2 separate regions of the Homo sapiens genome follow, and region 2 is reported to be linked to region 1. The links are microRNA targets in miRTarBase. Many come from high-throughput screens and were not tested one by one. Region 1 holds a microRNA gene; the other region holds the end of a gene's coding sequence.
The links. Region 1 holds the annotated microRNA hsa-miR-4793-5p (ACAUCCUGCUCCACAGGGCAGAGG, at 2,322-2,345, shown strand). A microRNA usually pairs through its seed, bases 2 to 8, with sites in the 3' UTR of a target mRNA and lowers its output. Matches are read on the target gene's strand: a 7mer-m8 pairs with bases 2 to 8, a 7mer-A1 pairs with bases 2 to 7 and ends in A, and an 8mer does both.

Region 1 (7,120 bases):
AGGCTGACAGACACAGAGCCACACACAGGAGGGATCCATGAGCCAGGTACAGACAGACCAAAGGGCTGACAGAGACAGACAAGGACAGGCTGACTGATGGGGGTAGGAGGGAGGGCAATCAGAGGCAAACAGTTGCAGGTCCCCTGGAGCTGCTCAGCCCCTCAGCAGCCCAGCAGAAGCTGGAGGGATTCTTAGAAACAGCTTCCACTCTGGGGACATCCCAGACCCTGGGTCAGCCCTGGCGAGTGGCATGAAGACGGGGTGAGGCAAGCAGGCTGAGCATGGGGAGGTCAGCAGTGCGTAAGCCCAGATGGGTGTCTCCCCAGGCTTCCTCAGAACCCCGTCATGAACTCCCCGGTGGTCAGCGTGGCTGTGTTCCACGGACGCAACTTCCTAAGGGGAATCCTGGAGTCCCCCATCAGCCTAGAGTTTCGCCTGCTACAGACAGCGAATCGGAGCAAGGCGATCTGTGTGCAGTGGGACCCACCTGGCCTGTGAGGACCCCCATTCTGGAAACCCTTGGTCCCGTTAGCCCTTGGGAGGCCAACTAATAGTCCCAGCCTTCCCCTGGGGCCCCCACTAGTGCTGTTGTGCAACCCGGACCATGAGGAATGCTGTACCCCAACTCCAGGCACCCTCAGCCCTTCCCATGATCTCTCACAAACCCCTGCCTGACACTGGGTCACAGTTGTGTCTAACTGCCCTGTGGCTGCAGGGCGGAGCAGCATGGTGTGTGGACAGCACGGGACTGCGAGCTGGTGCACAGGAATGGGTCCCACGCACGGTGTCGCTGCAGCCGGACAGGGACCTTTGGGGTCCTCATGGATGCCTCTCCCCGTGAGGTGGGGCTGTGTTCAGTGTCCCAAGGAAGTGGGGGGTCAAAGGGACACGGGGATTCTGCCCAACAACCCATCAACCATCCCTGTCTCTGTAGAGGCTGGAGGGCGACCTGGAGCTGCTGGCTGTGTTCACCCACGTGGTCGTGGCTGTGTCTGTGGCTGCGCTGGTGCTGACTGCAGCCATCCTGCTGAGCCTGCGCAGCCTCAAGTCCAATGTGCGTGGGATCCATGCCAATGTGGCAGCCGCCCTGGGGGTGGCAGAGCTCCTCTTCCTGCTGGGGATTCACAGGACCCACAATCAGGTGCAGGATCAGGGCCAGGGAACTTGTGTCCTGATGACCCTACTGGCCCAGGAGGCCTGGGGCCAAAACTCAGGGTCAGAGGTCAGGGATGCTCAGGTTGGGGCCAGGGTTTTCAGCAGGATGCTGGGGTAAGATATTGTGGTTTAGGGGTGAGAGGTGGGAAGCAGATGCCTGGGGTAGGGGTCAGAGGTGGGTGAGGCAGGAGAGGTCCTGACACGCCCCCCTGCCCTCAGCTGGTGTGCACTGCAGTCGCCATCCTCCTGCACTACTTCTTCCTCAGCACCTTCGCGTGGCTCTTCGTGCAGGGGCTGCACCTCTACCGCATGCAGGTTGAGCCACGCAACGTGGACCGCGGCGCCATGCGCTTCTACCATGCCCTGGGCTGGGGCGTCCCTGCTGTGCTGCTGGGTGAGGGCTGTGACCCCCAACCTCCAACCATCACATGGCCTGACCCCTGACCCTGTCCCCACTCCTGCTCATGACCCCCAACCTCAAACCCCAAGCCATCTATTCATGGGGTTGCTGCTCTGCCCTCACCCATGCTTTCTCCCATACATGGGCTGGTCAGCAGCTCTGGAACACACACCCTCAGTCCTACCCTTTCTCTTCCCAAGGCCTTGCTGTGGGCCTGGACCCTGAGGGCTATGGGAACCCTGACTTCTGCTGGATCTCAGTCCACGAGCCCCTCATCTGGAGCTTTGCTGGCCCTGTTGTCCTGGTCATAGTGGTGAGTGCCCTGGACTTGGTGCCCCCTCTGTACTTCCCTCCCTCATTGGGGGAGGAGGTGCAGTGGACTCAGCTGAGGGCGGTCAGGTGGCATTCTGCAGGCTTCCTGGGCTCGGCCTTCATTTTTTCTGTCCTCTGGTCAGTAGCCACCCCCATTCAACTGGCATGGAGATGGGGGCGCGGGGTCAGAGATTCAGTTGCCTGTCCCTGCCTCTGTCTCTGCTTCTCTCTCTCAGTCCCTCTCTGGTTCCCAATTTCTTTTTCTGTGATGCTAAGCTCCTTTGGTGTGTGTGTATATGTGTGAATTTCTCACTGGTTCTGCCTCTCTCCGTGAATCTTAGTCTCTCTCTGTCTCTCATTGCCTCTCTCTCTCTCTCTCTCTCTGCCCTGCCCGGCCCCACATGTCTGGCCGTGGGTCCAGATGAACGGGACCATGTTTCTCCTCGCTGCCCGCACATCCTGCTCCACAGGGCAGAGGGAGGCCAAGAAGACCTCTGCACTGTGAGTTGGCTGGCTGGAGGAAGGGGGCTTCTCAGGATGGCAGGTCCCTCCTGGGTGGGGTCTGGGGCCCCCAGATCTTCCCTGGTGCAGGTTGGGCTCCAAGTTCTAGATGAAGGAATGAAGTCACACCTGCCCTGACCTGTGGTCCCTCTCTGGCGCCCTCGCTATACTGTAGCCCCACATGTGCTTCTGCCCTGCTGTCTCTCCTTGTCCTCTGGGTCCCCCCAGAGTCTCCCATGGCCTGGGTGGCTCACTTTGCCCCCTGCCCTGTGTGTTCCCACCTGTCTTCCGTGCCCTCCCTTGTGGCTCCCATACCCCTGTGTTTTCCCCACGTGTCCTCATGGCTCTTTGACTGCTCTCCTGTTTCTTTGTGGGACCTCCCATCTCCCCCAGTGTCCTCCAGAGACCTCCATGTTCCCGTGTGAGTTCCTTTTTTTCACGTTTCGTGTGTGGCCCCTGTGTGTCCTCCCGTGTTCCCTGCATGAGTCCTACATGAGCCTTGCATGTCCTCCTGTGTCTTCCCATGTCCCCACAGCAGGACCCTTCGCAGCTCCTTCCTGCTGCTTCTGCTGGTCAGTGCCTCCTGGCTCTTTGGGCTCCTGGCAGTCAACCACAGCATCCTAGCCTTCCACTACCTCCATGCTGGACTCTGCGGCCTCCAGGTGACTCTGGTGCCCCTCCCTTGCCCCAGAACCAGGTGGGCCTTCAGTAGGCTGGGGCCATCCCTAGGCAGACGTTGACCCTAGGCCTGGAGCTGACTCTTACTGGATAACTTTGCCAGGCTGGGTACTACCCCAGACCAGACACTGGCCCTAGCTGCTGCCCCCAGGCCTGGAGCTGACTCTAACTTAGGCACTGATCCCAGACTGAGTGCTGATCTTGGATCGACCTTCACCAACACCAAGGCTCCCGACCCCTTGCTGATCCACACCGACCTTACAGACTCCAGCCACTCCTGCTGCTCCATCCTCTCCCCTGCTGACCTTCCCCAACTCCCTTACTGAGTCCCGCATGGGCTCCTCACTGACCCACACTAGCCTACAGTGACTGACCCCATTGCTGACCCACAGTGACTTATACTGGTCCCTGATTGATCCCTGCCGACTCTGCTTTGACCCTCGCTGACCCACAGGGCCTGGCGGTGCTGCTGCTCTTCTGTGTCCTAAATGCAGATGCTCGGGCTGCCTGGATGCCAGCCTGTCTGGGCAGGAAGGCAGCGCCTGAGGAGGCAAGGCCAGCACCTGGGCTGGTGAGTCGGGATGGGGGCCCTGAGAAGCCAGAGTTTTAGGCTGCTTCAGGGTTAGCTCACACTCTGTCCCTACCACCCCCAGGGACCTGGGGCCTACAACAACACGGCTCTCTTTGAGGAGAGTGGCCTCATCCGCATCACTCTGGGCGCCTCCACCGTCTCCTCTGTGAGCAGTGCCCGCTCCGGCCGGACCCAGGACCAGGACAGCCAGCGGGGCCGCAGCTACCTCAGGTGAGAGGAAGAGCCTCCTTGTGAGGGAACACTCAGCTTAGTCCAGCCCCACCTTACCAGGGCTTGGCTGACCAGGTCCTAGGGCGGGTGGCTCCACCCATCTTGGCCATCTGGGGCCCTGCTTCTGCCTCTGCCCTAAATGCTTCCCACCACACACACCCAGGGATGCCATTCCACCCGCAGCTGGCTGTGCACTCAAAGACACTCCAGCCTCCAAGGCACCCCATCACATCCCTCTTTCATGGTGGGGGGGCTCCTGCTTTTCCAGGGACAATGTCCTGGTTCGACATGGCTCAGCCGCTGACCACACTGACCACAGCCTCCAGGCTCATGCTGGCCCCACTGACCTGGACGTGGCCATGTTCCATCGAGATGCTGGTGGAGTTGGGGCCTGGGGCAGGGAGGAGGGAGGCAGAGGATCTCTCCCCATCCCCTTTTCTTCTACCCCATACTGGGAGCAGTGGCTGACTGGGGTGGGACGATCTCCCCCAGGGTCCCTGCCTCAGGAGGCACCTACCTCTCCAGCCCTGGTTCTCCCAGTCCACTCCTGATTCGTCCTTCCCTCTGATAAGTCCCAGCCCTTCTGCTGCTACCTCCACTTCAAGCCCCGGTTCCTGTCCCCAACCCTAACCCCCTTGCCGTACCCACCTCTAGACCCTCAACTCCAAATTCCCTTATCTCCAAGTCCCTTACCTCTGAAAGTACTTCTGACTTTCCCAACTCCAGGCGCAGACTCCGACTCTGACAGTGACCTGTCCTTGGAGGAGGAGAGGAGTCTCTCCATTCCATCTTCAGAAAGCGAGGACAATGGCCGGACGCGGGGGCGCTTCCAACGGCCACTCTGCCGAGCAGCCCAGAGTGAGAGGCTCCTCACCCACCCCAAAGGTGCCAGGCGCCCTCTGACCCCTTGGGTGACCAAGGGATGCCCCATTTGTTATCCCTCCAGCTCCCCATCTTTCCTGCGGTTGGGGTTCATCCTGGTCTTTCTGACCCCTCAGTCATCAGGTTCCCCAACTTTTAGTCTCTGTCCACCTCCAGTTAAGGGGAGGGAGCTCACCAGTCACCCCCACCCATTGATCTCTGAGGAGATACCCTCCTGTTCCCACCTCTGCTCAATGAGAACAGCCAGGGTTTCAAGGGTCATTAGGGTCAGGGGTCATGAGTCACTGGGATCAACCCAGAAGCTCCTGTAACCTGACCTGGCTCCACAGATGTGGATGGCAATGACCTCCTGTCCTACTGGCCAGCCCTGGGGGAGTGCGAGGCAGCCCCCTGTGCTCTGCAGACTTGGGGCTCTGAAAGGCGCCTGGGGCTGGACACCAGCAAGGATGCAGCTAACAACAACCAGCCAGACCCGGCCCTGACCAGTGGGGATGAGACTTCTCTGGGCCGGGCCCAGCGCCAGAGGAAAGGTACAGTCCCTGAGCCCTGGCCCACACCGCAGACACGCTGGGGGCTGCTCATGCCCTGAGCCAAGGGATTGCAGCTTCCTCATCCCAAACTGAGAGCTCTTCTTACTCTGACCTAGGGCGCTTCTGCTTCTCTAGCCTGCTTCACGGTCCTCAGGGACTGCTCCTGTCCTGACCTGGGAATTCTCTGTCCCCCTCTACCCTGGCCAGCACCACAGGGGGACCACAGGCGACCACTCCTGCCCCAGCCCATCTGTTTTTCAGAGACCCTAGGAGCTGCTTCCCCCTGCCCCCCACCCAGATCCCAGAGCCCGTGCTCTGATCTGGAAGATTTCTGCCCCCTACTCTGCTTTTATGGGGACCCGGAGAAGAGGTTTCTGCCCTCACCCTTGCATCACAGGGACCTGGGGACTGCTCCTGTCCAACCCGGGGGGTTCCTGCATTTCAGCCAGGCCTGCATTGTCAGGACCTGAGGGCTGCCCCTCTTCTGACCTCAGGGAGTTTGCCCCATCCCCTGCACCATGAGACCTGCCCGCCCTCCCCCTGCCCCGGGACCACAACTGGAAGATGACTGCCCTTCCACTCTGACCCCTGTCCTGCTGCCTCTCTGGGACCACCAGGGTTGCCTCTGCTGCTCCCCAAGGGGTTCCTGCTCCCATCCCTGTGTTGGAAGGATCCCAAGGGCTGCCACACCCCTAGACTCAGCAATTCCTGCCTGCCCTCCCCCTCCCACACAAACCCTGCCCCCCATTTTCTTCCTCTCACAGGCATCCTGAAGAACCGGTTGCAATACCCACTGGTGCCACAGACCCGAGGTGCCCCTGAGCTGTCCTGGTGCCGTGCAGCCACCTTGGGCCACCGTGCTGTGCCAGCTGCCTCTTACGGTCGCATCTATGCTGGCGGGGGCACGGGCAGCCTTTCACAGCCAGCCAGCCGCTACTCTTCTAGAGAACAGCTGGACCTGCTCCTCCGGCGGCAACTGAGCCGTGAGCGACTAGAGGAAGCCCCTGCCCCTGTTCTACGTCCCCTGAGCCGGCCAGGGTCCCAGGAATGCATGGATGCTGCACCAGGCCGACTGGAGCCCAAAGATCGGGGCAGCACCCTGCCACGGAGGCAGCCACCTCGGGACTACCCTGGCGCCATGGCTGGCCGCTTCGGGTCACGGGATGCGCTCGACTTAGGGGCACCTCGAGAGTGGTTGAGCACGCTGCCTCCGCCCCGCCGCACCCGGGACCTTGACCCACAGCCCCCACCTCTGCCCCTGTCTCCCCAGCGGCAACTCTCAAGGGACCCCCTCTTGCCATCCCGGCCGCTGGACTCTCTGTCTAGGAGCTCGAACTCTCGGGAGCAGCTGGACCAGGTGCCTAGCCGGCACCCCTCACGAGAAGCCCTTGGGCCACTCCCGCAGCTGCTCAGAGCTAGGGAGGACTCGGTCAGTGGCCCCAGCCATGGCCCCTCCACAGAACAGTTGGACATTCTTTCCTCCATCCTTGCCTCTTTCAACTCCTCGGCCCTCTCCTCTGTGCAATCTTCAAGCACACCCTTGGGCCCTCACACCACTGCCACACCTTCTGCCACAGCCTCTGTGCTTGGGCCCTCCACGCCACGTTCTGCCACGTCTCACAGCATCTCGGAGCTGTCGCCAGACTCAGAGTAAGTATGGTCCAGCCACCTGCTTGCACCCTCATCAGCTTAGGGCAACCTCCTGTGTGCCCTGCCCTGTGTTCTGCCACAGAAGGGGATGAGGGCTGGCAGACAGGTGTGGGCTACCCCAGGCTCAGCACAGCCAGAGGGCCACAGGCTGGGGACAGGAATCTGGCAAGAAATGGGGGTGTGACTAGCAGGGACTTGCTGGCTGTGTGA
Region 2 (7,120 bases), not on the chromosome of region 1:
GCTCCACCTCCAGTCAGATCAGCAGTGGCATTAGATTCTCACAGGAATGTGAACCCTATTGTGGACTGCATATTTAAGGGATCTAGGTTGTGCACTCCTTATGAGAATTTAATGCCCTATGATCTGTCACTGTCTCCCATCACCCCAAGATGGGACCACCTAGCTGCAAAACAACAAGCTTAGGGCTCCCACTGATTCTACATTATGGTGACTTTTATAATTATTTCATTAGATATTTCAATGTAATAATAATAGAAATAAAGTGCACAATAAATGTAATGTGCTTGAATCATCCTGAAACCATTCCCCCCTCAACCCCAGTCCATGGAAAAATTGTCTTCCACAAAACTGGTCTCTGGTGCCAAAAAGGTTGGGGACCACTACTTTAAGCCATAGAATGTGTTCAGTAGAGTGGTCTCCCTGCAGCCAGCTTGGAAGCTACAAAAGCCACAGACAATCCAATGTGTGTGAGGCTGCAACCTGGGCCTCCCAGGGCCTCCAGAAAGCCTCCCTGACCTTCCTAGTCCGCCTCCACCAGCTGCTACTGGCAGCACAGGAACTCCTCGGGAGGCAGCTCTGTCCTTGCCCAGGCTCACACTGTGGGCCGCACGTGGTGAGCTCCAGGAGCTGCTCAAGTCTGCTGCTTGTGGGACCACCAGGCAAGCTATCAGACCCCATTGTGCCCAGCCCTGAGGTGGCTGCATGCAGGAGCTGCTGGTTAGATTTCCAAAGTCATTATTAAAAGTTAAATTATATACATTAATTAAATCAATCATATTTAAAATCAATATTCAAAACGTACTAAATGTCAGCCAGGTGTAGTGGCTCATGCCTGTAATCCTAGCACTTTGTAAGGCTGAGGTGGGAGTATTGCTTGAGGCCAGGAGTTCAAGACCACCCTGGCCAACATAGCAAGACCCACCCTATCTCTATAAGATACAAACAAACAAAACAGCTTACTACATGACAATTAGATAATTGTCATGACTGCTTGTTACTATTACCTGTGCTTCTGAGGTAACTTCCATCTATTGTTTCTGCGTGACAGAAATACAATATAATGGTGGCTACTGTACACATCGTTCTACCTCTGGGTTTAGTGACATCACATTGGTAGCTTGAAAATTGGCCATAGAGCTGGGTGTGGTAGCTCACGCCTGTAATCCCAGCACTTGGGAAGGCCAAGGTGGGTGGATCACCTGAGTTCGGGAGATCCAGACCAGTCTGGCCAACATGGTGAAATCCCATCTCTACTAAAAATACAAAAATTAGGCCGGGCGCGGTGGCTCACATCTGTAATCCCAGCACTTTGGGAGGCCGAGGCGGGTGGATCATGAGGTCAGGAGATCAAGGCCATCCTGGCTAACACGGTGAAACCCCGTCTCTACTAAAAATACAAAAAATTAGCCGGGAATGGGGCGGGCGCCTGTAGTCCCAGCTACTCAGGAGGTTGAGGCAGGGGAATGGCATGAACCTGGGAAGTGGAGCTTGCAGTGAACCAAGACTGCGCCACTGCACTCCAGCCTGGGCGGCAGTGCGAGACTCTGTCTCAAAAAAAAAAAAAAAAAAAAATACAAAAATTAGCTGGGCGTGGTGGTCGTGGTGGGATTACACGCCTGTAATCCCAGCTACTTGGGAGGCTGAGGCAGGAGAATCACTTGAACCCAGGAGGCGGAGGTTGCAGTGAGCCGAGATTGTGCCATTGCACTCCACCCTGGGTGACAAGAGGGAAACTCTGTTTCAAAAAAAAAAAAGAAAAAAGAAAAAGAAAATTTGCCATAGTAACAGTATTTCACCATGAAAATCAGCAAACACTACACATCAGGGGCTTGGTTTACTGCTCCCCCTCTCCCCACCTCACCCCCAGTCTGTGGTCATTTATCAGCACATTACTGACTGCACCCAATGGGGACAAACTCCTAGGAGCTCTGGCTGTCCCAAGGGCTGAGGGGATTCACATGTGATGCACCTGGAACCTGCTCTGCTGGATAGAATGTTGGGTCTTCTGAGTTTCCAGGTGGACTTTGTCTCCATGCTTGGGCCAGTGGCCTTCCAGACCTATGCTCTGAGGTCACCTGCAATAAAATTCCACCTTATATGAGCAGCAAGGCTACAGAGGAAGGCTGAGCTGCCCTTCACACACGTGGGCTTGCCTGGAGCCATTCCATCTGTGACAGCACAAACTGTCCACCTTCCAGCCTCTTAACCTGAGCAGCCATCAGTCTTTTCCTTTAGCTCATAAAACTGAAATTTTACTACAGTCTTTGGTTACTTTTGTAGAGATTGTTCTAGCATGGGGTAACCTGTATATAATGTTGTAAGGTTCTAAGAGGCTAAGAGTTGCCTTTACCTATCCAGGCAAAGAGAAGGGGCTGGGTGCAATGAGAAACACTTATGATTTCTGATAAACAGAAAGATTCCATGCCTATATTTAAAAAGTGAAAAAAACAAGAGGCATTACTGAGGTCTCTCATCACATTGAACTCCCGGTACACACAGCTCATTTTCTCCCTCCTTCATCCAATGTGTGGAGTACTGGCTCTGTGCTGGGCACCACTCCAGGCACTGGGGGCAGTACCGAGCCAGACACACACAGACCCCCTAAACTACCCCCTACACCTCCCAGCCCCCTCCCCAAGGCTTAGCCAGAGCGGTGAAGGCTGAAGGCTGTGGTACCAGACTGCCTGGCTTTGAATTCAGGGTCCTCCATTTGTGATTTTCTTGACCTTGTTGTACCTATCACTACAAATGTGTGAGGTGGGTCTCATCAACCCTGTTTTACAGATGAGGAAGCTGAAGCATGACATTCACTAAGACTGTGAACTTGTTTCTCATAAATAACTGTAATACATTTCTCAGAGTCAAGTATGTACTAACAAACTCACAAGTATGTGAGTTAGGTATGTACTAATGAAGAGTCTCATGACCCCATGGCCATTCCCAGTTCTGAGGTACATTATGTTTTTACTGCAACTTCCTGCTGTTAGATACCTGGAGGATATGCTTAACCACACTGTGTAATGCAACCCCACATTGTGGGGTCAACCTGGATGCTTCTCCCCAGGGCTGTAGTGAATACACCAAGCCACTTGCAGGAGACAGTTCCAGGAAAAGGTCCCAAGGCAATGTGGCTTTTAGGTGATGAAAACTTTATGTAAAATATGTTAACTGCCTTTAGAAAATTTAAAATTATGTTTCTGGTTCTTAACCATCCTGCTGTAAATAGAGCTCAACCTCCCTAGAACAAGACTGAGTAAATATGGACAATAATTAATCAGAATTACTGCAACCCCCTAGGGATCCCAAAGGCCCACCTGGCTACCCCAGGCCACCTCCCAAGGGGACAATCCAGACTCTCTCACGAACACACAACTGAAGGCAGAGCTCTTCAGCTTGTCAGAACTCATTCAGAACTCATTCTCACTTTTGTGGCATGAAAAAACAAGCCTTCCTCCTTACTTGATATTCTGAAACTTCACAGTAAATTTTGACTTTAATCCACCAAAACATGGCTCTTCCGCAACCCAGCCCCAAGCCTGGCACTGTGGAGATTCACTTCTAGAGGACTAGCTAAGGGTTTACTACAGGGCTAGCTCAGAAGGGCCAGAGAGAAAGGCAGATCAAAACCGACAGCTGCCCCACACACAGGGGCCATCAAGCCCACCCCTGGGAAATGGCCCTGCCCCAACACCCAAGCAGGGAATGGAGTGGGGCAGGGAGTCAGCTGTCCCCACCCTCCGCTAAAGAGACAAGCATAGGTCCACTCCTCACCTTGTCCAGTCAGTCCTGCCCCATGAAGGACACCACAAGGACGCAACAGACAACCCACATGTGGGACATGCCATGGGACAACTGATGTTGTCAGTGGCAGTGCAGTAATAGGGCGGAGGCACTCTGGATGAACAGGCGGTGGAGACAGGACAGTAAGTCACTTATGTGGACCCTGCTTGGCCGCTGATCCAACAAACCAACTGTAAAAGGAATTTCTGAAACAATTCAAAAGGTGTGACTACAGGTTGACTGCTAGATAATTCCAAACATGTTCATCTTGTTAGAGGACTGATAATGAACACTGAGATTATATAAGAAAATATCCTTATTTTTTAGAAATACCTATTTGAGTAAGAAGTGGTAAAATTATATGATATCTAGAATTTACCTTCAGATAGTTTAGCAAAAAAAAAAAAGGATAAATGAAGCAAATGACATAGAATTTCAACAATTGTTGAATATGGGTGATGGGGTTTGTGGCATCATTGTCTTTGTGTGTGATTAAAATTTCTCAAAGGCCGGGTGTGGTGGCTCATGCCTATAATCCCAGCAATTTGGGAGGCCAAGATCACTTGAGCTCAGGAGTTCGAGACCAGCCTGGAAAACACGGTGAAACCCCATCTCTACCAAAAACACAAAAAATTAGCGAGGTGTGGTCGCGTGTTCCTGTGGTCCCAGCTATTCAGGAGGCTGAGGCAGGAGAATCACTTGAACCTGGGAGGCGGAAGTTGCAGTGAGCTGAGATTGCGCCAGTGCCACTTCACTGCAGCCTGGGCGACAAAGTGAGACCCTGTCTCAAAATTTAAAAAAGAAAAAAGAAATGAAAAGGGTTTTTAAAATTTCTCAAAATTAAAAAAAAAAAGTGAAACAGAGTCAGTAAAAGCAATCACAGCTTTCCTCAGCTCCCTGAAGTTACAGAGACAATTATTTGAGCCCCCACTTTGCAACAACAAATGCCTGACATTCACATACAACAATCACAAGCTGGTTTACAGATGTGGAAATGTTGTCTCCTCAATTTTACTTCGTGGTGTTACAATCCATTCTGTCAACAAAAACCTTCCAAAGAGGCAGAAAACTCTTGGGAGGCAGGGTAGGAGGTAAAGAAAAGGAAAGAAATAGATAAGACAGTGCTGCTACAGTTCCTCTCACAAATGAAATGGAGCCTCAACTGTTTCCCCAGATGACTGAACAGCTTCCAGATTGGCTTAATGTGGGAGCTCAACACATTCTCTCTCACAAAGGAATTCGAGCTGGCTGCAAGTACAGCTTCTAGAACAGATGTTCTTAACTTGTGGTCGACAGATCCCTGATGCAAAATTTTAAATGTGCATGACAGTTTTCTAGAGAGTATTCAGCTTTCTTTGTATTCTCAAAGTGATCCATGTCCCAAAAAGTTAAGAACCACTGATCTTAATTAAAGAGGGTTTGAAAGCAAACTGACTAGATTGACGCTCTGGCCATGGGTTGTGCAAAGAAAGCTTTTTATTTGAGAACACCTAGATACTTTTGGAAATGTTCTTGTTGGATCACAAACAACCTAATTGACAGTCTATCGCCAACATCCACAAACACAGCAAACAGTCCAGTCCTGCAGACCACACAGGGTACATCTAGAGGGTTCTACTTGCATCACCCACACTTCCACTCCTGTGAAACAACTGTCTTGGGCATGAGAAGGGCCAGGATAGGCCAGGTGAATGGCAGGCTGCCCAACAACCCCAATCCCAAACCAACCTCCCAGGCCATGGGCCCAAGTCCCTGCAGGAAGATGCTAATAGGTACAACAGGTAGAACATGTAGACACAAACATCTAGTTTATTTTTTCTGACTGTAACCAAAGTCAGCAAAAGAAACAACAAAACTTCAGTGCCCTAGAAATCCTCCTGGATTCAATGACAACACATCAATGGCCGGGCACAGGGTTGGATTCCTTTTATGAAATCACCTTATAATCTCTCATCATCCCAGGACAGTGCCTTTTGGGACTGCATGAATCTTTAATAGCTACACCACATTTTCTCATCCTTTAAGTTATGACAGACAGGTTATCTCTCTCCAAGAGCATCAGGTTAGATGCTCTTTCACTCTTACAAACTGTCAGGTGGAGGGAGAATCACGACATCATTCATAAATAACTGTGGAGTCTGGGATGCTGGCTGAAGGCATCTCCAGGAAGGACTGGAGGGCGATTTTGCTAAAGGGCTGCTCACTGCTCATTTCACTGCATGCCGCTTTTCTCACTTTGGTTGGGAGTTTGAAGGACCATGTAATCACAGAGATTAGAGCTCCCTGTGAAATCAATCACTGCCTTTAGATCTCCACAAAGACCTGTTCTCCAATAGCACATGCGTTTCTCTGTGAGCTGTATTCGCATCAGCGCCGGAGCCTCAGAAAGAATGCGTGTTTACACTCTGTACTCTCCAATGGGTAATATTTATCATAGAAATCTAATACATATTCTTCAGTCTTGAATCCAAACTTCTGGTACAGTAGCATAGCGGGGTTGCTTGCTGAGACGTGAAGGGTTACGTCCTTGCCCATGCAGGTCTGCCAAAAGAGTGGAAAAATACAAGATAAAAATGGAAAGGCCTGAGGGAAAATGAGTAGGTAAAGAAACGCTTTTAAGTGTAGGCAGTTAGTTATGGAAACCGGAGAAATCAGAGACTGAGGCTGAGACATTGCAACACCTAGCAACAGCTGGAAACAGAATGACATTTTGCTGCTGATCAAAACATTCACAAGACCAAGGAAACTGATAGTATTCTGGGTGTTTTTTATTTTTCTTTGAAGCAAAGGGTCAATGGGGATATTGTTATTGTCAGCTTTATTATTTACAACTCAATTACCTTTAAATATGTCAAACATTTCAATACCTAACACTATGATAACCTTGAATAAATACAAAACAAAATAAGTTTTGCTTTTTAAAACTAGATGTTATCTTGTACCTCCCCAAAACCTGTAAAAATTCCTTTACTAGGCCTGCTAAATTACATGCACAAACATGAAATATTAAGAATGTAATTATAAAACCTGAGGCCCTTGTATAGACCTTCTGAATCCCAAAGTCCACCTTCTGTCTCTCTAAAACTGACAGAATTAGCTTCTTAGAACTGAGATTTCTACATTCAGCTTTGACCTAATCTTAGGGGAAAAGAGTAACAATCATTCTATCAACACAAGGCAAGTCCTTAGATTCTTTAATCAGCTACACAGAGTAAGGTGTCCCAAAAGTCATATCATTTAAGAACTTACTTTTTAATAAAGAAGGCACTGAAATACTGAAGTTGATAGAGTCCTTGAGATTTATAACCCATGGTTCTCTCAGGCCTCTAAGAACTCCTCT

Region 2: the mRNA of KAT14 is a reported target of hsa-miR-4793-5p. Seed matches in the 3' UTR shown: 7mer-A1 at 5,794-5,800.

What each region holds. Positions count from the first base shown.
Region 1 is chr3:48,639,464-48,646,583 of GRCh38, reverse strand. It overlaps MIR4793 (microRNA 4793), which reads left to right and starts at 2,304; the gene lies at 2,304-2,390. It overlaps CELSR3 (cadherin EGF LAG seven-pass G-type receptor 3), which reads left to right. Exons shown (of 35, transcript NM_001407.3): 22 at 327-494; 23 at 716-842; 24 at 935-1,141; 25 at 1,375-1,549; 26 at 1,756-1,868; 27 at 2,289-2,368; 28 at 2,907-3,030; 29 at 3,501-3,617; 30 at 3,700-3,848; 31 at 4,117-4,226; 32 at 4,575-4,733; 33 at 5,060-5,260; 34 at 6,025-6,910.
Region 2 is chr20:18,186,487-18,193,606 of GRCh38, reverse strand. It overlaps KAT14 (lysine acetyltransferase 14), which reads right to left. Exons shown (of 11, transcript NM_001392073.1): 11 at 5,572-6,321. The coding sequence ends at 6,148. Among named protein-coding and RNA genes, the nearest start is that of PET117, 52 kb to the right of the region's middle.